4 linked regions of the Homo sapiens genome follow. The protein of the gene in region 4 purifies or fractionates together with the protein of the main gene of each other region. This does not show direct contact. Each region holds a gene or a part of one and is shown on either strand. Other genes may lie near its edges. The genes, in order: NPAT, CUL5, AMBRA1 and ASB8.

Region 1 (7,029 bases), on a different chromosome or scaffold from region 4:
GTCCATAAACAAACTTTTGCCTAATACACTACTGTCAGGTTGATCCCCTCATTTTCATGCAACCTACTACGGTCTCTCTGTCTATGCTGGTGCTGCTTCTCTTTATAACTTACAGATTTTATAAGTTATAAAAACTTCCTTGCTTTAACTCCAAATCCTACCTTCATTCTTTAAGCTTTAGCTCAAGCCCCACATTCTCTATTAATTCTGACCTCTCCTTTATGTAATTTGTAACAGCACGTAAAACAGACCCATTAGGTTTAATACTAATTGTTGATATTTAATGAAATTTTATTGTATGTCTATAATGTAACAAAAAGGGAAAAGAGGGAAGCTTGGGAACCAACACATAAGGAAATGTAAATAAATGTGCCATGAGCACTATCTCTGAGGAACATACAATAAAAAATTATCAATATGATAGGCATATCAATCACTAACTACATATAACACAGCACGCAATAAATGCCACAAGAGCCCCTATGAAAAAAGGATTTTTTTTTTTTTTTTTTTTTTTGGAGACAGAGTCTTACTCTGTCACCCAGGCTGAAGTGCAGTGGTGCGATCTTGGCTCACTGCAACCTCTGCCTCCCAGCTTTAGATTCTTCTGTCTCAGCCTCCCAAGCAGCTGGGATTACAGGTGCCCACCACCATGCCAATTTTTGTATTTTTAGTAGATACGGGGTTTCACCATGTTGGCCAGGCTGGTCTTGAACTCCTGACCTCGGGTGATCTGCCCGCCTCGGCCTCCCAAAGTGCTGGGATTACAGTCATGAGCCACTGAGCCCAGCCATAAACAAAGGATTTTAAAGACAGAGATCAATTAGAAAGGATTTTATAAAGGAAGAAATTCAAGTTTTTTTTTTTTTTTGAGACAGAGTCTCGCTCTTGTTGCCCAGGCTGAAGTGCAATGGCATGATCTTGGCTCACTGAAACCTCTGTCTCCTGGGTTCACGAGATTCTCCTGCCTCAGCCTCCCAAGTAGCTGTAATTACAGGCACCTGCCACCATGCCTGGCTCATTTTTTTGTATTTTTAGTAGAAATGAGGTTTCACCATGTTCTCGAGGCTGGTCTCAAACTCCTGACCTCAGGTGATCGATCGGCCCACCTCGGCCTCCCAAAGTGCTGGGATTACAGGCGTGAGCCACCATAACCGGCTGAAATTCAAGTTTTTCTTGAAAATTTCTCCAAAAAGATGATGAATTCCCTGAAGACCATGACTATAAGAGCTATTTTTAAAAACTCCCCCACAACATTGGGTTTTATACAACTATGTGATGAATTAGTCTGTCTTTTCTGTTTATTGTAACTTACTAGCACATAGATTGAGAAGTATTTGTGAAAAGAAAAAAGAAAAACCACTAAAGCCCATAGCTTACTAGCAGATTAAGAAAAATAAAAAAGGTTTGAATTAGCTAGCATAAAGAAGCAGCGTAATCACAAATTTCAGAATCTTTTCTCATACCATCTACTCATTAGTTATTACTTCGCAGTCAATAACATCACATACAAAAGAAATTAGATCCCAACCCAGAGAAACAAATTTCAATTATGTTATTAAAGTTACCTTGTGAAAAGTTTGGTGACACAGCTTGGTTGACAGCAAATACACTGTTTGACCTTGGTGGTGTCTGTAACTGAGGTGGTAGAGGTTGAGCAGTCATAGGTGCAGAATTTCCAGGCAACACCACTACATTAGACTGACTTACAGATGTTCCTAACGCTGTTGGATCAGTCACACAGGTAGCTATCAGAATGTTATTTGAATTGCCAAAAGCTGTGCTTGTGGCTGGCATCAACTGTATATATCCTCCATCCTTGGAAACACATGGTGTAACATTAGCTGAAAAAGCAATGCCATCTTCATTCTGAGTATTGTTTACTGCAGAGTCTTCAGATTTGAATGTTAAAAGACTCTGTTCCATTGAGGCTGAATCCCCTACTTCGGCATATACAACAGCACCTACAGTTTCTTCTGAAGATAGGCATTTAACTAGTTCTGCATTTTTAGTAGGTGATTTAGTAGGAGAAGACAAGATTATAGTTGGCAGGTTTTCTCCATTAATACTAGAAACAGCACTGGTAAGTTCAGTATCTGAGGAAACAAATGGATCATCACTAATGATAACTTTGAGAGAGACGATATTTGATGCATCTATCTCTGCTGAGTTGTTGCTAGAAGGTTTATCATCAGTATTTTGGGACTCAGGGTGAGAATCTCCCACTGAAGAACACACAGATTCTGGAGGAAGAGAGTGACTGTTTTCTACAGGAGTGCCTTCTGGAGGCGTCAGTGCAACTTTCTCACAGTTAGCATTTCCACCTAAAGAGAGAAAAATAGTATTCTCTTCTTTTACAGAAGATGAAGGCTCCTGTGAATTCTCAGACTTGGATGCCTGAGCTTCATTTTCTGTATGATTTAACTCAACAGATGCTGAATCATTAGATGGTTGTTTAGTAGAAGACAGCGAATCTCCAAGATGAATTTCTACTTGTCCAGATACATTTAAATGTGAACTTTCAACAGACACAGGTAGTATTTCACTTTGAAGACAAGAATTATCTTGGCAATTTGATAGCTGTGACATAACTGGTTCTAACACATTAATTTCTATTTTACTCTTGTGAACTTCACTAGAATCTGATGACTTGGAACCATGAAAATTAATTTTAAGTTTTACTGTATCATTAGAATTTTCACAAAATTGACTTTTTTTAGATGGCTTTCCAGTTAATGAAGTATCTTGGGATAAAAGTTGAGAACTCTTCCCAGAGAGAATTAAGTTTTCATTGTTAGCTTCACAACCAAGTGAAACAAATGAAGTTATTGGTATATCAGGCTGATCAGGCTGTAACTGAGATTCACTCGGTACATTTGAAGACAAAGAGTTCTTTTCAATCCCTATAGCCATTTCAGTTTCAGTGGACATCTGATTGGTGTATAATTCAGCACAATGTGGATTACATTCAGCATTAGAATTCCCTCTTTGGTTAAAGTCATTCAAATTAGGCACGGACTCAAAGGTAATGTCAATGTCACACTTCTGTTCAGTGGGTACAGCTGTTTTAAAGGCCTTTTTCTGTATGCTGGTACTTATTTGGGAAAAATTTTCCTGGTCTTCTTGTCTAAGCACATCATGGTTGTTGCTATTCTTCAAAGCATTTAATGGGTCATCATTCTGATAGGATGTACAAAAAGCGGGCTGACCAGACTGACCATCTGCAAAGTATCAGGCAGGTAGACAGATATGGTAAATATGTTCAGCTTCTGAGGTAGTCATTTTTGCCATAAAACTTATTTTGCCAAGAAAATAACTCATCTTTGCATACCAGTAAGTGGAAGTCTGATACGCTGTGTTTCCCATTTACTGAGTATCAAAAAATTTACAGGTACTTTCTAGTTACTGATGACTTTTTACACAAGTGTCAATTTGTTTTCCAAGCTTGGAAGACAGATGATACAAAGAAGGAAAAAGTAAAGAGGTTTAATATTTCAATAGGTAAAAAACATACTGGCTCCAAAAATGAAGTTTATTTTGAAACACTAACTTTTCAACTTCTAACATTTCTTCTGACTTTAATTTATCTACTGTCTCGGCCTCCCAAAGTGCTGGGATCACAGGCATGAGCCACCACACCCAACTTATCTGACATATTCTTAAAGGTGAGATGGGGCCAAGTACATTTTGCATGATTGACACTTGATCTCATTGTGTACTGTTTAACATTAAACACATATTTACTGAAGACCAACCATACTTGGTTACTGGGATACAAAGATGAATGATCCAATCTCTAATCTTGGAGAGGTTAGTCAAGGAACCAACTATAGAACAGAAAGTCATAAGAAAGCATGGTAAAAACTGTAACAGCATAGGAACAAAAGGTACCATGAGAAAAAATTATAAAGGAGGCACTGTATGAGAAGATCTTAAAAAAAAAAAAAAAAAAAGAGTATGATATGAGTAAGGAAAGAGTATTTCCTTTTTTTTTTTTTTTTGAGACAGAGTCTTGCTCTGTCGCCCAGGCTGGAGTGCAGCGGTGCGATTCTCAGCTCACTGCAGCCTCTGCCTCCCGGGTTCATGTGATTCTCCTGCCTCAGCCTCTTGAGTATCTGGGATCACAGGTGCGCGCCAGCCACCACACCTGGCTAGCTTTTGTATTTTTAGTAGAGGCGCGGTTTCACCGTGTTGGCTAGGCTGGTCCTGAACTCCTGACCTCAAGTAATCTGCCCTCCCTGGCCTCCCAAATTGCTGGGATTACAGGCATAAGCCACTGTGCCTGGCCTGGAAAAAGTGTTTCAGAAAACAACAATACAGCATTCACAATTTAGGACAGAAAACATTAACTTGAATCAGTATGAAAAATATTTTTTAAAAACCAGAACATTTATGTCAACTAGCATATACAGCAGTCTCCCATTATCTGTAGTTTTGCTTTCTGTGGTTTCAGTTACCTACAGTCAACCAGCCTAAAAATAGGTGAGTACAGTACAATAAGATATTTTGAGGAAGACTACATTCACATAACTTTTATTACAGTATATTGTTATAACTGTCCCATTTTATTATTAGCTATTGTTAATTTCTTACTGTGCCTAACTTTAAATTAAACTTTACCATAGGTATGCCTGAAAAGGAAAAAACAGTAAATACTATATAGGCTTTGGTACCACCCAATTTCAGGCACCCACTGGGGGGCTTGGAATATATCCCCCATAGATAAGGGGGGACTACTCTAATTCTGTTAAATGTGACACTTGCTGCTGAGTACAGAGCACATCTGAATCCTTATTGTGGGGAAAACAGTAGAAATTGTATAGAGGCCACATAAATTCAGGATAAGTAGTTCCTCAGTGAAGTAGGATGACTTTCTCAGAAAACGGAATTTCAAGTTTCACTTTGTACAGGGAAGAACTTAAGTGAAACACAATCTTCTAGACATAATATATACTGCAAAAAACACAACCCACTATAATTCAGCCTAAGAAGAAATGGAGAATTGGACTTGATTGTTGGCAGAGGAATTAAAGGAGGCACACAGTCTGAGATTCTCCAAGGACAGGATGTGAATGAACACTGGAAGCCATCAGATTTTTTACTGGTGGGAGCAGGTGATAACATTTAAAAACAGGTGCACAAAAAACATGTGCCTTAATAAAAATAAATGTTACAGACTTTTGAGCAACTGAACAACATTAATACTAAATTGTACATGTCAAGAATTGAATTATAAAGGAATGAGGTTGAGTGTGGTGGCTCACACCTGTAATGCTACCTCTGCTTCCCAAAGTGCTGGGAGCATCGTTTGAGGCTGCATGCAGTGAGCTATGATTGTGCCACTGCACTCCAGCCTGGATGACAAGAGGGAGACCTTGTCTCAAAAAACAAACACACACCAACAAAAAAAGCTTATAGTAAAAGAATGAATACTGTAAATTTTCTTTTAATCAAACTACCAAAGATTTATAATTGTTTTTAACAGAGAGAAAAATACAAAAATGACCTATAACAATCTGAACAACTTCTACTTCCAAATTAATATTTTCTGCCTTTGAATTTTGAGACTAATATTAAGATTTGGATTGATGATATTAACAAAATTAAATTCTTACCAGATTCTTCTGTTTCAAAAGAACCTTTAACTGCTAGATTAGTTTCATCTGCTAAGACTATACTGGGATTGGATTCCATAGGTTGACTGGAAATACTTTGTGATATATTTTTATTATTCTTTGTTTTGCCTGTTAAAAAGGGAATATGGAAATAATTAAATGACCAAAACAAAAAATAAACATCAATGAATACAGCTTGTTGGTGATTACGCAAATGTTAAACTTCGATTTAGGGTTTTATGGATGTTTAAAAAATGTTGCTTTTAATATCATTTACAAGTACAAAGATTTTCCCACTAGACAGGTGTTTCTTAAACTTTAGCCCAGTAATTTGCATTTTCTAACGAGTTCTCAGATAATGCTGAGATTGTTGGTTTGGGGGACTATACTTTGAGAACTACTGCACTAAATCATAAGATTGAGGACAATGGCCAATTTTTTGTATTCCCTTTGTACGATTCAATTGTGTTTAACACATTTGTATAGTGGTAGACATCAACACATTCCCTGATGACTGGCAAAAATGCCACAAAAATAAAAAACAAAACTACTCTCCACTTTAACAGCTAAAGTTTCTCAGCTAAAAACAAAACAACAAACACTCCTTTAACATATCCATATAATGTTTGATGAAATGAAAACAAGAACTTTTTTAGATACTCTGGGGAATGTTGATTCACTCTGGTTAAGTTACCAAAGAAATTGTAGAAGCCTTTTTTTTCTGTCTTGAAATAAATAGTCTCCTTACCATAGTCAAAGAGATCAAAGAGTGCCTGAAATGCTGGGTCTGATTCTGTCTGTTCCAATATGTCCTGTATAGCTTCTTCAGACATGTGAATTTCACTCTGCAAGAAAGGAGTGGCGTGAAGGCATGATTCTAACTGAATTTATATATATTTACATATTATATATATATAAGACAGGGTCTCACTCTTTTGCTCAGGCTGGAGTGTAGTGGTACAGTGGTAGAGTCACTGTAGCTCACTATAACCTGAAATTCCTGGGCTCAACTGATGCTCCTGCCTCAGCCTCTTGAGTAGCTGGGACTACAAGTGCACCACTATGCCCAGCTTATTTTATTATTATTATTATTTTTGATAGAGATGGGGTTGCTACCTTGCCCAGGGTAGTCCAGAACTCTTGGGCTCAAGTGATCTTCTTGCCTCAGCCTCCCAGAGCACTGGGATTATAGATGTGGGCCACTGTACTCAGCGTGAATAATATGATTTAATACCAGCAAAATAATTAGCAGACACTCGACTATTTCTGACTTTTTATGTAGTAGCATTCCCCCACTCCAAGAAAATTTCCAATGACATGCTCATTTAAAACAAATTAAAACAAAACTAGATAGGTGTTTCCTAATCCTACTTCTTAGAGGTAAGAACTTTGGTGAATATATTCCTAAACATTA
Region 2 (7,029 bases), on a different chromosome or scaffold from region 4:
GACTTCACACCACGCCCACCATGTCTATACTCCCTTAACTCCTTTCCTACTTTACCTACTTATTTGTTTTATTTTTATTTATTTATTTTTTGAGACAGAGTTTCGCTCTTGTTGCCCAGGCTGGAGTGCAATGGCACGATCTCAGCTCACCACAACCTCCACCTCCTGGGTTCAAGCAATTCTCCTGCCTCAGTCTCCTAAGTAGCTGGAATTACACGCATGTACCACCACGTCCAGCTAATTTTTCGTATTTTTAGTAGAGATGGGGTTTCTCCATGTTGATCAGGCTGATCTCGAACTCCCGACCTCAGGTGATCCACCCGCCCTGGCCTCCCAAAGTGCTGGTTACAGGCGTGAGCCACTGCACCTGGCCTATTTACTTGTTTTAAAATAGACAAAAAGAGTCTGGGCACAGTAGCTCAGGCCTGTAATCCCAGCACTTTGGGAGGCCGAGGCGGGCCCATCACCTGAGGTCAGGAGTTCGAGACCAGCCTGGCCAACACAGTGAAACCCCGTCTGTAGTAAAAATACAAAAATTAGCCGGGCATGGTGGTTGGTCCCTGTAATCCCAGCTACTCGAGAGGCTGAGGCAGGAGAATCGCTTGAACCTGGGAGGCAGAAGTTGCAGTGAGCCAAGATCATGCCATTGCACTCAAGCCTGGGCAACAAGAGCGAAACTCAGTCTCAAAAAAAAAAAAAAAAAAAAATTAAAATAGACAAAAAGAGTGAGAAAAAAATCCTACTGGAGAATGGAGAAAGTTGTCTTTTTAGAATCATTCAAACTTGGGAAGTAACGAAAGGTAGTCAAAGAAGAGAAAAAACTAACAGCAATTTCTTGTTATAGGTTTATTACACTAAAAAAGATACAATGCTAAGGACAGTATGGTGTTTTATTATCATTATCCTATACTAGTGAGGATGGAAAAAGATGGTATGCAATACAAATGCTTCCCTGGGAAACAAGGATAAGTATAACATAACTCCCGAAGGAGTCCCATGAAAGGACGGAGGATGGAGGAATCAACTCTGCTGGTGATGAGCTGTGGAGGGAGGCAGGACATCAAGGAAGCTCCAGGGGAAGTATTCTTTGAGCTGGGTCTTAATGGAAGGATGAATAGGAATTCAATAGATCAGTAATATTCAAAAACAGAAAAACATTCTTGGAAAAATGAGAAAAAAGCAACTTTCTAACTAAATTCTAATTCACAAGGCTATCTAATGTTTAACAAATGCTTACAGCCAAGACAAAACGAATATAGTTGTTCTCCACTGATGAAAAATAACAGTTGCTAGGTTTTTAAGTTTATAATTAATAGAAAAATAATGCAAATTGATTATTAGAAGTAAATTATGAGAATAAAACTTTTAAAAGTGTTTTTTATATATATAGGAATATATACCTTATCTCTTGCAGTAAGAAATCGTGGATCATCTTGAAAAGCTTCTTTGACGAGTTTACTAAATCTATTAAATAGTGTAAGTAACTGCTCAACGTATTTCTCAGAGTCCTAGAAACAAAAGGTTTTACATTAAGTTTTTAAAAGAAAAAGAATAACACAAAAAAATGAGAAAATAAACATAATTTTAATAAAACTCATTTAAAACTGGGGATATTTTTTCTTAAAAATAAAACTAAAAGGTGTTCCAATATTACTGTTTTGCCACTTCTTTTTTCTTTCTTCCTTTTTTTTTTTTTGAGACGGAGTCTCGATCTGTCGCCCAGGCTGGAGTGCAGTGGCACCTTCTCGGCTCACTGCAAGCTCCACTTCCTGGGTTCACGCCATTCTCCTGCCTCACCCTCCCAAGTAGCTGGGACTATAGGCGCCCGCCACCCCGCCTGGCTATTTTTTTTGTATTTTTAGTAGAGAGGGGTTTCACCATGTTAGCCAGGATAGTCTCGATCTCCTGACCTTGTGATCTGCCCACCTCGGCCTCCCAAAGTGCTGGGATTACAGGCGTGAGCCACCTTGCCCAGCTCCCTGTTTTACAGAGAAAATAGTAATTTCAATTACTATTTTCAATTTTCAATTCTGTATTTTTAAAAATTTAATGTTTTTATTTGTAATCAACACATAATGGTACATATTATGGGGTACAATGTTATATTTCAATGCATGTATATACTATAATGATCAAATTGGGGTAACTACTATATCCATCACTTCAAACATTTATAATTTCTTTGTGGTAACAACATAAAAAATCTCTTCTATCTTGAAATATACACTACATTGTTACTTGCTATATCCGCCCTAATGGGTAATAGAACACCAAAACTTATTCTTCCTATTGAACTATAACTTTATACCCCACTAACCAACCTCTTCTGCTCCCCCAACCCCCAGCCTCTGGTAACCGCTCACTATTTTCAATAATCCTACATTTAAAAAATAGCCTTGATATATATCTATCATTGCCATTGAAAAAAAACTTACAGTAGTAATAGTTTCAGCAGCTGCTACCATATCTGCCAGGCCAGCACTAATGATATGTTCCTCCAAGTCTTTCAACATTGGCTCTATACCATTAGGAACTTTGTCCATCAATGAAAACATTAAATGTAATTCTGGAAGGAGAGAACACATTCATGTAATCATTTCATTTACTAGAGTAAGAGTTTAGAGAAACATTAGTTAAGTTTGTAATGTTAATAGTATTCTGTGGATACAATGCCATTAGGAGTAGTTGTTCGTTTTTTTGTTGTTGTTTTTTTGTTTTTGAGACAGGGTCCCAGTCTGTCACCCAAGCTGGAGTACAGTGGCTCGATCACGGCTCACTGCAGCCTTGACCTCTTGGGCGCAAGCAATCCTCCCATCTCAGCCTCCTGAGTAGCTGGGACCACAGGCACATGTCACCATGCCTGGCTAATGTTTTTTGTAATTTTGTAGAGACAGGGTCTCCCAATGTTGCCCAAGCTGGTCTCAAACTTCGGGGCTCACACAATCCTCTCGCCTTGGTCTCTCAAAGTGCTGGGATCATAGGTATGAGCCACTGTACTTAGTCTAAAAATTATGTTTAAAAAAAAATCGAATTAAAAGTGATCAGGCTGGGTGTGGTGGTTCACGCTTGTAACTCCAGCACTTTGGGAGGCCAAGGTGGGAGGATCATTTGAGCCCAGGAGTTAAAAAGACCAGTCAGGGCAACATGGCAAAACCCATCGTTACACAAAAACAAACAAACAAAATTAGCTGGGTGTGGTGGTGCATGTCTTTGGTCCCAGATACTTGGGAGGCTGAAGTGTGAGGAATGCCTAAGCCCAGGAGGCTGAGGCTGCAGTGAGCCGTGATTGCACCATTGCACTCAGCCTGGGTGACAGGGCAAGACGGTCTCAAAAAATAAAAATAAAAAAAGTGATCAAATACTGCAAAACCCAACTCCTTTCTTTAAAAGGTCAGTCATTTGGCCAGAAGCAGTGGAGATCAGCCTGGGCAACAAGGTGGGGCTCTGCCTCTACAAAAAATACAAAAATTAGCCAGGCATGGTGGTACACGGCTGTAGTCCCAGCTACTCAGTGGGCTGGGAGGTGGGAGGATCGCTTGAGCCCAGGAGGTCAAGGCTACAGTGAATTGTGATCGTGCCATCGAATTCCAGGTTGGGCAACACAGCGAGACCCAGTCTCAAAAGAAAAGGTGAGTCATTTGGTTTTCAGTGCAAAGGAATATTTATTTACACACAAGATTAGTTTATTTCATAAGGTAGTTGTAATACTACATATACAGCCATATCATCAAAAGGTAAAAAACATGAGTAATAATTACGAAAGCAACTATATTAGAGATTAGAATATAAAACTGTATTCATAAATAATTTTTCAATTTACAAAGCACTTTTTCATGTTATGCCATTTTATTGACCTTCACAAAAACCCTACCTCACGGTACTGATTACCACTAAATAAATCCTTTTGAAAAGAGTGCAACATAGATCAGACATAACTCTAATTAGACTGGCACACAGAATACAAGTATTTTGTTTACGCCAATAAAGCAGCTTGCTTTTTACTACTGAATTACTCCTAAAAAGTGTATGAACTTAAGTGAATTGAAATATGCACTTTAAATGCAACTAGAGATTAAACAGGACCTTGCAGTTAGATATAATAAAACCTGGAAACTCAGTAGAAGTACGTTATTTAAAAAACAAAAGCAAAAAAATGTTAAAAGCAGTTTTACTGGGGTAGTAGGTATATGTACAATTTTTTTTTTTAGTTTGTTATATACTTGCTACCTCTCAAAACACATCTTTTTAAGAAAACATTGAAGTAATAAAAAAATCCTTTAGAAATCTTATAAAGTATTTTGGGGGACAGAGATGACTATTAACAGGGAGTGTTTTATTACATTCTAAAAAGATTCATCACAAGGTTCCACACAAAAGTCAAATACCTGGTTCTAATCTATAACATATGTTTCCAGTTTAAACTGGCCTTTAAAAGCAGTGTCTTGCTTTTGAGAAAAAAGTAGAAATTCACCATACACATACACAGATGTTGATAGCTAAGAGGGAAAATGCTTAAAATTTAAGTTTATATACTCTTAGCAGTGCCTCTGTGTTAAATATTTTATCTATTTCCTTAAGTATAGTTCACTCTAACAGTTCCACATATACCTATGTGGAAAAGAATTAACTAAGAGCAACTTAGTAAGTGATTTGTTTCAAAGATACCCTCTTAGAAGATTATGATAACTTTATGTGATGTTTTACCTACTTTCAGTTTCATTTCTCTTGATCATGCCTTGGCACTCAGCTAAGATAGTCTCTTTAAATGATGTCACCAGGGCATTTACACAGCATTCCATGAGCTGAAATATATCAAAAATTAGTCAAGGCTACTATAAGCTGTATAGCACAAATCTATTCTAACTCACAAAATAAAACAATATTGTTCAACAAAAAAAAAATTATACTGAAAGTAGATTTCACTTACCTTAACTATAGGATTATTGAAGATGGATATGCTATACTAGTTTACCAAAGTGTATTTTCCCCTAAGGAAAAAAACTATAGAACTAGACTCTCTTTAGAAATTTTAACAAAAGTCCTCAAGGAGGGGAGAGAAAAATATACAAAACCAAACTTTGATTAACTCTTCCTGTCTGGAGAGAACCTGTTTTAAAATTAGGTTATAAAATTCTAGAAGTGTGAATACATTCATTCAACAAACCATTATTGGATGCCTACTACGTGCAGGCACTAAGGAAGTATTTAAGAGACAAGAATAAGATATAATTCCTGCTCTCGAAGAGATCACTGTCTAATTGAGAGTGAGGAGGGCAGTAAACCTACACTGCTAACTAAATATAACTCAGTTAAGTGGCATCACACACATACACAAACACACACAAAATAAAAAAAAACTTAGAAACTACTTTTTTCTAGGGTAGTTAAAATGGCCTCATCCACAAGTTGGTATCTAAATGGGATCCTGTAAAGTAAGTACAAGCCCTAAAATAGGTTACGTATTCTAGGAATACCAGGAAGCTTAAAATGGTAGAGAAGAAACAGACAGTGGAAGAGAAGGCTAGAAAGATAGGCTGCAACCAGATTATGAATGAAAATCTATGATTTGGGGTTTTATTTCATAGGTAGGGAAGGAAGAACAAAGGAAGGTTTTTTTGTTTGTTTAAGAGACAGAGTCTTGCTCTGCTGCCCAAGCTGGAGTACAGTGGCATTACTACATAGCTACTATCATACCTCACTACAGCCTTGAACTCCTAGGCTCAAGTGATCCTCCTGCCTCAGCCTCTTGAGTAGCTAGGACTACAGGGATGTACTATCAAGTCTGGTTAATTTTTTAAACTTTTCTGTAGAGATGATGTCTTGCTATGTTCCCCAGGCTGGTCACAAACTCCTGGTCTCACATGATCCCCCTGTCAGTCTCCCAAAGTGTGGGATTACAGGTGTGAACCATCAGGCCTGGCCCCAAGGAAGTTTTAAACAGAGGATAAATGTAATGAGATTCTCCTCTCCTCAAGTCATTATTAAAGATCAGTATAATGGTAGTAAGGCAGGTGGTAAGGAGTGGGTGGTTGGGATATGGTAACGAGGCTGTTGAACTATTTCAGGTAAGATAGCAAGGGTCTAGTGCTCTAGGAGGCCATCAGGAAAATCTAAATGAGGCAGAAGATATCATGTCATCTCTGCTCCCTCGTGTCATGTAATTATTTACTTCTCTTTTGGGGATCAGATGAAATTAATAGGTTGTGAGGACTAAAGTTAAGTACAATAAGGCTGATATATTTCTTCTGAAAAACAAATCATCTATCTGTAAATTAAGGGAGGCAATTATGTGTCCCTTAAAAATTTTTTATTAAAAATTCCTTTGGAATTGACATAATGTTGGTAACTACTAAAGCTGAATTTAGGTAATGGGGATTCATTATACTGTTCTTCCTACATTGTAAAAATGCTTAAAATTTTCCGAATAAAGAATTTTCTGTGGTCCCTGCGAGTTGGGGGGCTGAGGTGGGAGGGTCAGTTAAGCTCAGGAGGTCAAGGCTGCAGTAAGCCTTGATCATGTCACTGCAGTGTAGTCTGGGCGACAGAGCAAGACTGTCACAAAACAAAACAAAACAAAACAAAAAAAAAGGTTTTTTCAGGCTCCTCTACAAGAATGATGCTGATGACTTTTAAATGCATATATCCATGTATATTTCTGTCCTAAGAAAATAATACACATGGCTGGGCGTGGTGGCTCATAGCCTATAATCCCAGCACTTTGGGAGGCTAAGGCGGGCGGATCACCTGAGGTCAGGAGTTCAAGACCAGCCTGACCAACACAGAGAAACCCCATCTCTACTAAAAATTAGCCGGGCATGGTGGGTGCCTGTAATCCCAGCTACTCGGGAGGCTGAGGCAGGAGAATTGCTTAAACCTGGGAGGCAGAGATTGCAGTGAGCCGAGATCGTGCCATTGCACTCCAGCCTGGGCAACAAGAGCAAAACTCCGTCTCAAAAAAGGAAAAAAAAAAGAAAAATAAAGAAAAGACTACACATATAAAATGGTTAAGAAACTCTTTCCTTGCAAGGT
Region 3 (6,139 bases), on a different chromosome or scaffold from region 4:
CCCACGAATAGAGCAGGCCTTTCGGCCACTGTAGGGAAGACACAGTCAAGGGAGACCTGAGCAGCTAGCAACTGGCACCTTGCCTGCAGATAGGACCAAGCCCCTCCACCTGCCTAGCAGGCTGGACACCTGCTGTGCGTGCTTTCCCAGGACTGGAGGGGATCCAGGTTTCTGGCCAGTTACATCACTTCAGGCCTGTAGTCCTGGGTGGGAAGCTATTAGGATGAATAGCCTTCTGTCGTTCCTTCCTACATACTCACCCTGGCACTGGAAGGTGGCCCCAGTCTGTAGCAGGCCCTGGGGAAGCAGGAAGTGGTGGCGTACAGAGAAGTGGTATGAAGCAGAGGTGGCAGCCCTCACCTGACCAGCTCTGGCGAAGGGGTCAGAGGGGTCCACTGCACCCCACTAGGAGAGCACCAGAAACAGTGCCGGGAGAACCTGGGCCTGGCCCAGTTCAATGCCCCTCACTTCCCAATCCCCACCCCTCCCCCATCCTCCTTGGAAATAAGAGAGAGGAGCCTGGCGAGGGGCATGTCATCATTTTAATGATGTGATCTTTGGTGTTTCCCTCATTAGCTGTAGACTATCCCCTCTCCTCCCACCACAATGTTTCTATGATGAGTTACAAACAGAAAGGAAATCACATTTTCATACTAAAAACAAAATGATCAGAGCCTTGATTTCTCCACTAGAAACTACACGTACAGTTAAGAGTCCACATGCAACACCTTAAATCACAGACTGAGACCTCACATTCTGACCTGGAGTCTCCTCCCCTTCCCCAGCCTTGGGCTAGCTTTGGCCTAGGCTCAGGTAATACTGACACCCACAGGCGCTGCTCTGAGGGCCTTGCGGGGAGAAGACTGGTGGACAAGCCCTGGGGGCTGGCCAGCCTACACCCCCCACTCCTGAGTGAGGACCTGCCCACTGTCCCTTGACCCCATCCTGTATCAGGCAAGCAGGCGCCCCCTTACCCCACAGTAGTCCCCCATTAGTAAATGCCGAAGTCCCTGTCCTCAAGAATCTGGGAGCCTGGCCCGATCCCTGTTGGTTTCAGTGGGGTAAGACGACGAAGAGAGGCTGAAGCTCTGGAAGGCTCAGAGTTGGAGGTGGTGTCTGGGTTCCTGGTGGCTCTGCCCACCCAACAGGTGGACAGGGCAAAGCTGCCTCGCGGGCCTCTGTCCAGGATGATTGGCCCAGATCTGGAAGACTGTTCACTCTCTGGAGGCTCTCTGTCCAGGGCTGAGTCCCCTGAGCCCATGTTACTAGGAGAAAGTGGGGTGCCTGGCAGAGATACCCACTTGTTCCTCTATTCACATTAAGCCCACAGTGTGGCTCTCCCGGGCTCCAGATCCTGGAAGGTTCTAGTTCCCCGAGGCAGGCCTTGCCCATTTGACTGTCTTGTGCCCACTGACTGATCTTCCTCTCCACCCTGACCCTCTTCCTCCTCCTGTTCCCTGATGCAGCCAGCAGCTCTTCCACATGTCCAGTTCCCAGTCAGCTGTGAGGTCCGGTTTCTGCTTGGCGGTTCGAGGGGAGGCACCAGTGCAACGTTTGTCTCTACCTGTTCCGTGGTTCTCCCCTAGGGCCTGCAGCGTCCCCCCTGCTGCTGCCACCATCCAGAAGGTGGTTGTTATTGGTCAACTCGCAGTGGAGGGTTGGTCCCTCAGCGCTGGGAAGGGAAACAGGAATGGGGACAGGGGAGGAAGAGGGCAGGGTTGGCTGGGTTGGCTCCCGCCCAGGGGTACCAGGCTGGTCCCAGGAAGCTGTCCGGGGGCTTAGGCCTCGCTCTGCCAGTTGCCCGGCCTCTGGGAGCAGTCCCCGAGAGGTGGAGGGCTGGGGTGAGGAGGTGTGGGCGGCACCAGGTTCAGTGCCCGTCTGAGAGCTGCGGTGAATGCGGTGGCTGACGATGATGTTGTTGCCGAAGCCGCCCATGGAGGCCATGGTGGTGCTCTGCTCCCGCTGCACCACGGCTGTCATGCCGCCCTCCGCCATCAGCCTCTGGATCCTGCTGAGCGCATCTTCTCCACTGGCACCATACTCTGAACCCTCACCTGGCAGATACAAAGCAGAAGAGAGAGCGAATTGGCTGCTGGCCTGGGCCTCTGAGGCAGGTGGGCAGCCACCGGTAGCAGCTGGGGGATTCTTGACTAAACGCAGGATAGAGAAAGACTCGCTCCATCACTGTGAAAACCAATCCGAGTCTTGAAAGCTAGACAAAACCCCCAAAATGTTCACAATCCATACTTCTGTTTTACTGGTGGGGAAACTGAGGCCTAGGATGGCCAGTTAAGAGGCAGCACTGGCCCAGAAGGCAGCAGGTTGGCCTCAATGAGTTCTCTCAGCACCAGTGGCAGCTTAGCATGCGAGAAGGCAGGTTCAGACAGCTGGTTTTGTCTGCCTGCTCCCTGTTGTGGAAACTCAGCAGACCTAGGGCTGAGCTGGGGTATGCCACCCTTTCTCTGCAAAGAGAGTAGGTACCCTATGGGTGTGGCCCAAAGGGAAACAGTCTGCTCTGCTTCATTACAATGCTGTCTTCCTTCAGCGTAGTTTTGTGTTACCTCCTCAAAGCCCCTGAGGAAGCTGAGAGTTATTTTTATATTGATTGATTGATTGATGGAGTCTCACTCTTTCACCCAGGCTGGAGTGCAGTGGTGCGATCTCAGCTCACTGCAAGCTCTACCTCCTGGGTTCACACCATTCTCCTGCCTCGGCCTCCTGAGTAACTACAGGTGCCCGCCACCACACCCAGCTAATTTTATATTTTTAGTAGAGACAGGGTTTCACCATGTTAACCAGGATGTTCTTGATCTCCTGATCTCGTGATCTGCCCACCTCAGCCTCCCAAAGTGTTGGGATTACAGGTGTGAGCCACTGCGCCTGGCCTATTTTATTTATTTTTGAGACAGAGTCTTGCTCTGTCACCCAAGCTGGAGTGCAGTGGTGTGATCTTGGCTCACTGCAACCTCCGCCTCCCGGGTTCAAGCAATTATCCTGCCTCAGCCTCCCAAGTAGCTGGGATTACAGGCATGCACCATCATACCTGGCTCATTTTTGTATTTTTAGTAGAGATGGTGTTTCCCCATGTTGGCCAGGCTGGTTTCGAGCTCCTGACCTCAGGTGATCCACCCTCCTCGGCCTCCCAAAGTGCTAGGATTACAGGCGTGAGCCACCACGCCTGGCCATATTTATTTATTTTTTTGAAATGGAGTTTTGTTCTAGTCGCCCAGGCTGGAGTGCAATGATGCGATCTCAGCTCACTGCAACCTCCACTTCCTGGGTTCAAGCCATTCTTCCGCCTCAGCCTCCGAGTAGCTGGGATTACAGGTGCCCGCCACCACACCCAGCTAATTTTTGTATTTTTAGTAGAGACGGGGTTTCACCATGTTAGCCAGGCCAGTCTCGAACTCCTGACCTCAGGTAATCTGCCTGCCTCAGCCTCCCAAAAGGCTGGGATTATAGGCATGAGCCACCGTGCCCAGCCTTTGTTTTTTGAGATGGAGTTTTGCTCTTGTCACTCAGGCTGAAGTGCAGTGGCACAATCTTGGCTCACTGCAACCTCCACCTCCCAGGTTCAAGCGATTCTCCTGCCTCAGCCTCCTGAGTAGCTGGGATTACAGGCTCCCACCACACCTGGCTAATTTTTTGTATTTTTAGTAGAGATGGGGTTCCACCATGTTGGCCAGGCTGCTCTCGACCTCCTGACTTCAGGCGATCCGCCCACCTAGGCCTCCCAAAGTGTTGGGATTACAGGCGTGAGCCACCGTGCCTGGTCAGAAGCTGAGAGTTTTAACTGTTCCTTGGAAGGGCTGTTTCCTTCTCTTCTTTCCCTTTACCCCCCAGTCTTCACAAGCTATTCCCCAGTTATTGTTCTCCTGGGGCTCAATGCCTGATGCCATATTTCCCGGAAAAGAGTCAACTGACCAGCACAGGACCCAGGTCTAGGGAGGGAGAGAAGGATCTGTCCGCCACTCCCTCTGCAGAAATGCCTGAGCATTCCCTTGTGTGGGAACAGAAAAGACTTCGGCTCAAATCTCAGCTGTCACTTGCTTGCTGGGTGACCTTGAAAAAAATCCCTAACATCTACCTTGCACGGTGCTGGAGAGAGAAAAGGAGCTAACGCACAGCCCAGGCACTTGGTCAACGGTGCCTGTTGTGATTAACTTGGGGTCTGCAGCAGTGGAGCTCTATTGCTGTGGGACCTCCCTTCCAGCTTTCTGCTCAGCTCTTGGTAGGGTGAGAACCAGGCCAAGACCGTGGGCAACTATGATCAAGGCTCTGAGGCTGCGAGGGATGGCTCCACTGAACTGCTGATTTGTCTCCATCAGCTACTGTTTGGAATTTTGCAGTTTTGGGGGTTTTGATGGTGAGTTTTCTTTCCTTTTGGGGTACTTGCCAGCAGCTATTTTTATGAGACTTTCTTTGCTCCCCTAACCCCATCCATCCCCTTCTCTCTGCCTGCCTCATTAGAGTTGGATTTCCAGGCCAGCCAGTTTCACAGCTTGGTGGCATCTAAGGCCCCAAGAGATCTCTCACCCTTCTTGTTGGTACTTGGCAGCCTCATGCTTCTAGTTCTTTCTATAGTTTTTTTTTTTTTTTTTTTTTTTTTTTTTTTTTTTTGAGACCAGGTCTCGCTATGTCACCTAAACTGGAGTGCAATGGTACAAACATGGCTCACTGTAGCTTAGCCTCTTGGGTGCAAGTGATCCACCCACCTCAGCCTCCTGAGTAGTAGGGAGTACAGGCAAGCACCACTCCTGGCTAATTTTTTGTACTTTTTGCAGAGACGGTTTCGCCGTGTTGCCCAGGCTGGTCTTGAACTCCTGGGCTCAAGCAATCCTCCTGCCTTGGCCTCCCAAAATGCTGGGATTACATGGGTGAGTCACTGCGCCCAGCCCCAGTCTTAGACGATCTTCCTCAGCATTATGTCCTCTCTTGCTTTTCTGGACAACCCCTGATAAAGCACTGCCCTCCATCCCTCAAGGTGGCTGCCCTTCCCCACTTCCTCCTGGGACACCCGGCTCCAGCTCCCAGGGCAGAAGGAGAGAAAACCTGAAGGGCTCTCAGAGTACTGGGTCAACCCCATCTTCAGGTTTTAAAGCCTTCTAACAGTGGGGCAGAAGGTAAGAAGAAAAAAGTCAACCTACGGCCTTGGTGCCCACAGAGATTCTACCCTGGGAGCCAAGGGCTGCCTGGGGAGGTCCCCTGGGGCCCTCCCTGTGCTCACTGTAGCCCCAATGCTTTCTCAGAACTCTGTGCACTGAAGCCCTCGCAGCATGGTCTGGGGCGTGCTGTGGCTGGCCTGAGGCCTGCTGGCATTGGAGTGCACTGTGCCAGGCGCTGTGCCTAGTGAATTCTCAGCTCTTTTCGAGACAGAGTCTCGCTCTGTCGCCCAGACTGGAGTGCAGTGACATGATCTCAGCTCACTGCAACCTCCACTTCCCGGGTTCATGCAATTCTCCTGCCTCAGCCTCCCGAGTAGCTGGGACTACAGGCATGTGCCACCATACCCAGCTAATTTTTGTATTTTTAGTAGAGACAGTGTTTCATCATGCTGGCCAGGCTGGTATCAGACTCCTGACCTTGTGATCCACCCACTTGGACCTCCCAAAGTTCTGGGAGGCATGAGCCACCGCACCCAGCTCAGCTCTTCTCAAGTAGATTACCAGGGGCAGAACAGGCTGCCTTGGGGCCCTATGGGTGCTGCTGCAGCCAAGCCCCCAGAGAGCCCCGGATGGGCTTTCCCAGGCTCTGCGGGAGGCCCTGCTGCTGGCACTCAAGTCTGAGCCCACTGCTTGCTTGCCTATGGCTCCAGGCCTGGCCACCCCTCTCTATGGCTATGACTGTGTCCTAACTGGGCTTCTTGCTTCCAGTCTCCTCCCCTTCCGTCTAGTCTCCACACTGTTCCTATTACCATCCTAATTCAGCTCTGCTGACTTGAGCTCTGGTTAAGTCTGCACCCTGTTCAAAACCCAGCAGCTGCAAAAGCCCTCACAGTAGTCAAAACTCCTTAGCTTGACATTTGAGGGCTCTCTGGCCAGACCCTTATCATGCTGCAGACCTTCCTGCCCTGTCCCCCACATTCCTGCAGGTACCCGGCAGCCCTGCTCCCTGCCTGCACAGATGGGCATACACTGTG
Region 4 (7,115 bases):
TGGCTACAGCCCTCTTTAATTTATAAGTAAGCACTGGTGCAGTTTTTGTTTTACAACTATGGGGAACAATCTTCAAGTTCTCTGGTCCCACAGAAGCCCCTCTTTAGGCAACATCAGTACTTCCTTTCCCTCTGGGTAGGAGGAGAGTAGGGACTCAGCACATACAAATTTCTCCCCAAGAAGTCTCTTCACAGACCCTTCCTTCCTTCACTCTCTTGATCTCACCATGAGGTAGAACTGTTTGTCAACACTGACTTTGGACATAACAATGTTGTTGAAATAATCATCATTAATTGCAGTTGAGGATGTTCATATCTGTCTCCCAACCCTTGATAATAAGAGACTGTCTGTCTTCATTTCTGTCTTCCCTGGAGAGTTGAGCACAAAGCCTGGAATAAAGTAGGTGCTCAGTAAATGTTTGATGAAAGGATGATTGAATGTATCCGAAACCAACTTTTGTTGCGCACTGAATTCTCTGAGGCACTTCAAAGTAATCAGTATGGGCCAACTTTGGTGTCTCTTGCCTGGCTGACATGAGCTTTGGGGCCCAGCCAAGTAGACTGTGAGAGTGTTGCCAAGGCAATTCTGCATGCAAGAGGAAGTGTGGCAGGACTGGGGGTTTGCTGATAGCTGCCTGGGAAGCTGGCCCCTCAGGCAGTGATACCACCAACCACCCTTGAGGTGGTCAGGGCCTGAGCAGAAGGACTGCAGAGACTGCACATGCCCCTTGAAGCCCAGGCCTATTTCTTGGAAGTCTTTAGCATTCACATTTGCTATCTGAGGAGGTTTACTGCCTGGAGTGAAGTATTCAAAATAGAAAAGACAGAGAAGCTAGAGAAGGAACAGCAGTGAAGCATCAACAAGCCTTTACTGGGGGACCATTTTCCCTCACAACACATTTGGAGAGCCTGAAACTGACAAAGACTACCTGGGTCAGTGGCTGTTGATTTATTCTGGTTTCAGTCATTACTGATATCTGTCCAGAAGAACTAGAAAAAAATAATTCAAGTTGTGGGTGAGATAGTGTTCCAACTCTGCCAAATTTAACTTTTCATCACCATTGACCCAGAGAGGGACATAAAAAAGGCCATTGCAAATTATGTGAAAGAATTTTCTCCCAAACTGGTTGGCCTGATTGGCACGAAAGAAGAGATCAATCACGTGGCCAGAGCATACAGAGTATATTACAGCTCTAGCCCCAAGGATGAAGATGAAGACCATGTTAGTGAATCATACAATAACAATGTCTTTGATTGGGCCAGATGGTGAGTTTCCAGATTATTTTGGCCAGACCAGGAAGAATGCAGAAATTGTTAGCCAGTTCAATTGCTGCACACATGAGGGCACACAGGAAAAAAGAGCTAGCCAAAGCAGTGATGCTGGGTGCAATATTCTCTTGTTAAAGAGGAAGGAAGCAGCCAGGCGCGGTGGCTCACGCCTGTAATCCCAACACTTTTGGAGACCGAAGTGGGTGGAACACCTGAGGTCAGGAGTTCGACACCAGCCTGGCCATCATGGTGATACCCTGTCTCTACTAAAAATACAAAAATTAGCCAGGTGTGATGGTGCCCGCCTGTAACCCCAGCTACTCAGGAGGCCAAGGCAGGAGAATTGCTTGAACCCGGGAGGTGGGTGGAGGTTGCAGTGAGCTGAGATCGTGCCACTGCACTCCAGCCTGGGTGACAGAGTGAGACTTCATCTCAAAAAAAAAAAAAAAAGGAAGCTTTGTCTTCCATAGAAATATATATATTGTGTATATATATGTAATATATATAGTATATCTGTAATATATAGTACATATGTAATATATATATTGTGTGTATATATATATGTTATATATATGCAACCTACAGAATGACCTTTGCACCATTGTACCATGAGAATGTTTCTATTTTGGATTGGCATGTTACTCCTGGGTTCAGTCAAAATAGACTCTTGAAACTGTAAGATTACAACTCAAAGTCTCCCAGGTAGCTGTGGTGAGACCAGAGGACCAAGTCTAAATGAAGTCAGTGAAGAGTGGAGGACGCTCATGGAAGGACACAGCAAGGGAGGCACAGCCAGTGCATCTCCCATTATGAATGGGCCCTCCCAGCAGCTTTATTGGCTCTCCAGTGTTTTGGACCCTTGCTCATACAGGCTGTGGAACTGAATTTCACAGAAAAGAATAATTTTTATAGCACTTTGGCTTCTCTCTTCTTGAGTTATTTGCTCTTCTGTGTTCTTGGTGGCTGATGATAGTCAGATTAGGCTCTCTGCCATTCAAAGTTTATCTTTGTACTTGAAAGCATAAGTTTTGTCTTCTTTGTTAATGAATATCACTGTCAGGCTTGCTCCACTGCCCTATCAGCAGGTACTGATTTGACTAATAAAGATGAGATCTATTGTTTGGGGGGAAAAAAAGTTAGTTTGATTTCTCTAGGGGTCTCTTATGTGATTTTTAGCTAAGTGATGGGCTAGGTTTTCAATGACATGCCAAATGGAAATAAGAAGATATTGATCATGAGTGTGACATAGAGTAGTTTTCTGCATATACTGAGTTGCAGGCCAAGTAAAATAAAAGTGTACTCAGTTTTTCAATAAATAAGTAAAATAACCTGTATTGAGAGCCTATTTTATCACTCCCTGGGAGACTCCGCTCATTCTTACATTTGTAAGATGCTGATGGTTTCCCAGAATTTATATACTTCAGCATTTCCCAACCAAGAAATTTGAGAGATGTGGTCCAGTGTGGTGACTCATGCCTGTAATCCCAGCACTTTGGGAGGCCGAGGAGGGTGGATCACCTGAGGTCAGGAGTTTGAGACCAGCCTGGCCAACATGGTGAAACCCCATCTCTAATAAAAATACAAAAAAAAAATTAGCCAGGTGTGGTGGCAGGTGACTGTAGTCTCAGTTACTCAGGAGGCTGAGGCAGGAGAATCACTTGAACCCGGAAGGCTGAGGTTGCAGCCAGCCGAGATCACGCCATTGCACTCCAGCCTGGGTGAGAAGAGCGAAACTACATCTCAAAAATAAATAATGATGATGATAATAATAATAATAATAATAATAATAATAAAAACATTGCCAACATTTGCAACTTGGAAAAATTCACTTTTTAAAAAAAATCTGTATTTCAGCTTCTTTTGAAAAATGGACGATCTCACCATGGTGCAGTGGCAGGAAGTGGAGGGCATATTCCTACCTGGCAAAATTCCTTTGAGTCTGGAGCTCAAAGGAGGCCCACTCCTCAGACCAGGTCATGAACTTTCAGTTTACCATCCTCTTACTGATGTACATGATCTGTCTGGGCCTGCTTTAAATCTCTAATTGGTTAGATTTGGTTGCTTAGAACAAGCTCTGGGGAGTAGGTGTGGGGCACTCTGGTTAAACAGGCTACCGGGCAGACCACAACTCTTGCAGTCTGCCTAAATGGGCTGCTGCTTCACTCCTTCCATGCACCACCACCATGTGCTGCTGACTTCAAAATGTTTATGCTTTGCACAGAAAGTCTGTCACTCAGAGGTGTCATCATGTTTTTGTGCGGGAAGTTTCATTAACCCTAATAAGAGTTATAAAGGTCATTTATTCCTCTACATTTAGAATACTACACCTCTTGGGTGGTTGAGTTTGTCTTTGATATGGTTTACTTGAAGGAGGGTGGACATGTACAGGAGGGTTCTAAGGAGCATAGATTCGTTCCACCATTATGAATAATGCTGTAAGTATTTTTGTCAAAGACACTTCCTACTAAGAGTTTAGTCTCCTAAGCAACTGAACCATTGTGGATGGACCCCTGCTGGCCTGGTCCACGCAGGTGCAACCATATAGAATCGGCCCAACACTCAGGGTTCCTGAGCTTTTTTATCCCCGCTGCAGGACCAAGACCCGAACCCTGCGGCTGTGGCCGAGAACGCTGCACTGAGCCTGCGCGCAAAGCCTCTGAGTAAAAGGAGAAAGTAACCCCCTAACTAGGCCTCTGGAGGGCGAAAGCTGCTGCACAAGTCTGCGCAGGCGCGCCCCGCTGACGAACACTCATCAGTGCGCAGGCGCCCATCTTAGTTGGTCTTCTAGTCCGGTAAACAGAGGGCCTGCCCCCGACAGCTTCTGCTTCCGGGTCACGCCTTGACAGCGGCTTTCAACCCCCACCTCAGCCCAGCAATTCGGTGAGTGCGGTCCTTGGAGTGGGTCTACAGCCAGGTTTCCTAACCCAGGGTACCACGCCCAATAACGCTTCCTCTACTCCCTGGTCGAAGTGCTCTAGTTCTCGAGGCTGAGACTTATTTCCGGGCCTTAGAAGGCAGATCGAAGAGGGGGTTGGTCCGCGTCTGAGGCCCCCCAGCGCAAATTGCGTGATTCTCTTTCAGTACCGGACCTACCGGGATTGCTGCGATCTGTTTAGAGCCCGTGCAGAAAGTGACACCGCACGTCCTTGCGTTTCGTGCCCTTGCCCCCCGCCCCCTAGCCTCAGCGAGACAGCTGCCGCGGGCCCTCCCGCAGCAGGTGCGGTGGGGATTACGGGCGCTGCAGGCTCGGCCAAGGTTCTCCCGGGGCGGGAGGGGGCGGGGCCGAGGCCTCCCTCGCATCAGAGCTGTTGTGTCTTCTCTTTTCCAGTTTGCTTTTTTTTTTTTTTTTTTTCAGCTTCTCAGTAAGTGCCCTTTGGTGTTTTCTCTGGATCCCGTAGCAAAAGAAAACGAGGGAGACAGGGCTTTCAGCTCTAGCAGAGGAAAGGGCCTTCCAAGGGGATCAAACCTTACACGGGCTGCTGTCTAGTGAGATCGAATTTAGCTTTCCTTGACCATTCCTGAAGTGAATGCTGTCTGCCCTGAAGTTTCATTCCTTTACCGGGAGCTTCCAGGCAGCAGCAGACCACTGACCATACTCTCAGGAGTTCTTAGCCCAGAGCCCAAGAGCGCCCGGGAAATTAGTTCAGGATTTAGTTTCATCCGATTATCATGGCCCAGAAATGGTTAACAAAACGACTTTATTTATTTATTTTAATTTTTGAATTTTTTTGTAGAGACGATTGGGTTTTGGGGTCGTCTCGCCATGTTGCTCAGGCTGGTCTTGAACTTCCAGGTTCAAGAGTTCCTCCTGCCTTGGCCTCCCAAAGTGCTGGGATTACAGGCAACAGAACCACTTTGGTCCAAGCCTCCTGCTTTAGATGCTCTGTCTTCTGCTGCCATTCTTGGAATTACCAACTCAAATGCACTTGTCTTTTTTTTTCCTTGAAACAAAAAAATTATAAGATACAGATACTTGTCTCAGAGCAGTTTAGTGGCTACTGGAGAGATTAAAACACATGCCAAATCTAAACTATCTAGAAAATGTCATAGAGACATATAAACAAGTGTGTCAGCTTATCCGTGCATGATAACGGGAGAAAAATACCTAATTTGAATTATCGATACATATGAATATTTTTACTTGCATTCTTTTAATGGAATTTACATCTACTATAAATGGCTACTGATTCACAAAATAGAAACTATCAGAATTTATAGTATATAATATATAAAGGGATACACAATCACAAAAAGCAAAAATAGGCCGGGCATGGTGGCTCATGTCTGTAATCCCAGCACTCTGGGAGGCCAAAGCAGGTGGATGACCTGAGGTCAGGAGTTTGAGACCAGTTTGGCCAACATGGTGAAACCCTGTCTCTACTAAACATACAAAAATTAGCTGGGCGTGATGGTGCACACCTGTAAATCCCAGCTACTCAGGAGGCTGAGGAACGTGAATTGCTTGAGCCTGGGAGGCTGAGGTTGCAGTGAGCTGAGATCGCACCACTGCACTCCAGCCTAGATGACAGAGTGAGACTCCGCCTCAAAAAAAAAAAAATAAAGCAAAAGACTATATATACATATATATATATATATTTTTTTTTTTTTTGAGATGGAGTCTCACTCTGTCATCTAGGCTGGAGTGCAGTGGCGCGATCTCAGCTCACTGCAACCGCCACCTCCCAGGTTCAAGCGATTCTCCTGCCTCAGCCTCCCAAGTGGCTGGGACTACCAGGGGTGGTGCATGCCACCATGCCTGGCTAATTTTTTTGTATTTTCAGTAGAGACGGGGTTTCACCATGTTGGCCAGGCTAGTCTCGAACTGCTGACCTCAAGTGATCCGCCCATCTCGGCCTCCCAAAGTGCTGGGATTACAGGCGTGAGCCATCGCGCCCCGCCAAAACATTATATATTATTAAATGACCAAAACAATTTCATATGGGTAATGTGCTTATTTATTTCAAGTCTTGAATTTCTTAGGATCTAAAGTAATAAACTTTACATTGGTTCAACAGATGTTAAGAACCTACCATGTGTTCAGGTACTATTGAAAAAATCAGTATCGTTATTCCCAAAGAGCTTATAATAAGAACACAGATTTCTAAGCAGTTGCACCTAGAGAGCTGATACTGTGTATTATATTTTCCCTATTGTTTTTGATATGTACTGTTTCATAGAAGTGTTCTACCTTATTGGCTGTAATTTTAAATGGTCCCTAACTCTTGTCTCTTATACAGCCAAGCCTTTTAAGTTGAATTGAAGTATATTGCATTATTTTCTTCTTCCATCCTAGAACTCTGTCCTATTGTGGTTTCAACATATATTTCACCAAATCTATTTCTCAGTTGCCATGAATAGCCAATTATTAAAAATTTTCACTCATTTTATTTATTTTTTTGAGATGGAGTCTCACTCTGTTGCCAAGATTGGAGTACAGTAGTGCAGCCTCAGCTCACTGCAACCTCTGCCTCCTGGGTTCAAGCTATTTTCCTGCCTCAGCCTCCCGAGTAGCTGGAATTACAGGCGTGCGCCACCATGCCCAGCTAATTTTTTTTGTATTTTTAGTACAGATGGGCTTTCACCATGTTGGTAAGGCTGGTCTCGAACTCCTGACCTCAGGTGATCCACCCACCTCAGCCTTCCAAAGTGCTGGGATTACAGGTGTGAGCCACCACGCCCCACCTTTAACTCATTTTAAAATCTGCAAATTTTCCTAAAACTGAAAGTACATTTTATTATTCTGAATTTTAATTTTTTCCTAGTTTTATATAAATGACTCCAGGGTAGTTATACTTTTGCTTTCCTTACCTATTTTAGAATACTACCTCAAATATTTCCTTTTTTTTT

What was found.
Region 1: the proteins of ASB8 (region 4) and NPAT purify together in Homo sapiens (affinity purification with mass spectrometry; 2 studies listed by BioGRID and IntAct, with this or other methods). This does not show direct contact.
Region 2: the proteins of ASB8 (region 4) and CUL5 purify together in Homo sapiens (affinity purification with mass spectrometry; 5 studies listed by BioGRID and IntAct, with this or other methods). This does not show direct contact.
Region 3: the proteins of ASB8 (region 4) and AMBRA1 purify together in Homo sapiens (affinity purification with mass spectrometry; 4 studies listed by BioGRID and IntAct, with this or other methods). This does not show direct contact.

Annotation. Positions count from the first base shown.
Region 1 is NC_000011.10:108,170,631-108,177,659, forward strand, and holds part of NPAT (protein NPAT), read right to left. Parts: intron 6,461-7,029; coding exon 6,364-6,460; intron 5,745-6,363; coding exon 5,616-5,744; intron 3,222-5,615; coding exon 1,569-3,221; intron 1-1,568. UniProt on the Homo sapiens protein: Required for progression through the G1 and S phases of the cell cycle and for S phase entry. Activates transcription of the histone H2A, histone H2B, histone H3 and histone H4 genes in conjunction with MIZF.
Region 2 is NC_000011.10:108,067,869-108,074,897, reverse strand, and holds part of CUL5 (cullin-5), read right to left. Parts: intron 4,803-7,029; coding exon 4,709-4,802; intron 2,567-4,708; coding exon 2,436-2,566; intron 1,509-2,435; coding exon 1,401-1,508; intron 1,099-1,400; coding exon of another isoform or gene 1,021-1,098; exon of another isoform or gene 832-1,020; intron 1-831. UniProt on the Homo sapiens protein: Core component of multiple cullin-5-RING E3 ubiquitin-protein ligase complexes (ECS complexes, also named CRL5 complexes), which mediate the ubiquitination and subsequent proteasomal degradation of target proteins.
Region 3 is NC_000011.10:46,395,890-46,402,028, forward strand, and holds the end of AMBRA1 (activating molecule in BECN1-regulated autophagy protein 1), read right to left. Parts: intron 2,055-6,139; coding exon 1,561-2,054; 3' UTR 525-1,560; downstream 1-524. UniProt on the Homo sapiens protein: Substrate-recognition component of a DCX (DDB1-CUL4-X-box) E3 ubiquitin-protein ligase complex involved in cell cycle control and autophagy.
Region 4 is NC_000012.12:48,154,492-48,161,606, reverse strand, and holds the start of ASB8 (ankyrin repeat and SOCS box protein 8), read left to right. Parts: upstream 1-4,091; 5' UTR 4,092-4,148; intron 4,149-4,349; exon of another isoform or gene 4,350-4,485; intron 4,486-7,115. UniProt on the Homo sapiens protein: May be a substrate-recognition component of a SCF-like ECS (Elongin-Cullin-SOCS-box protein) E3 ubiquitin-protein ligase complex which mediates the ubiquitination and subsequent proteasomal degradation of target proteins.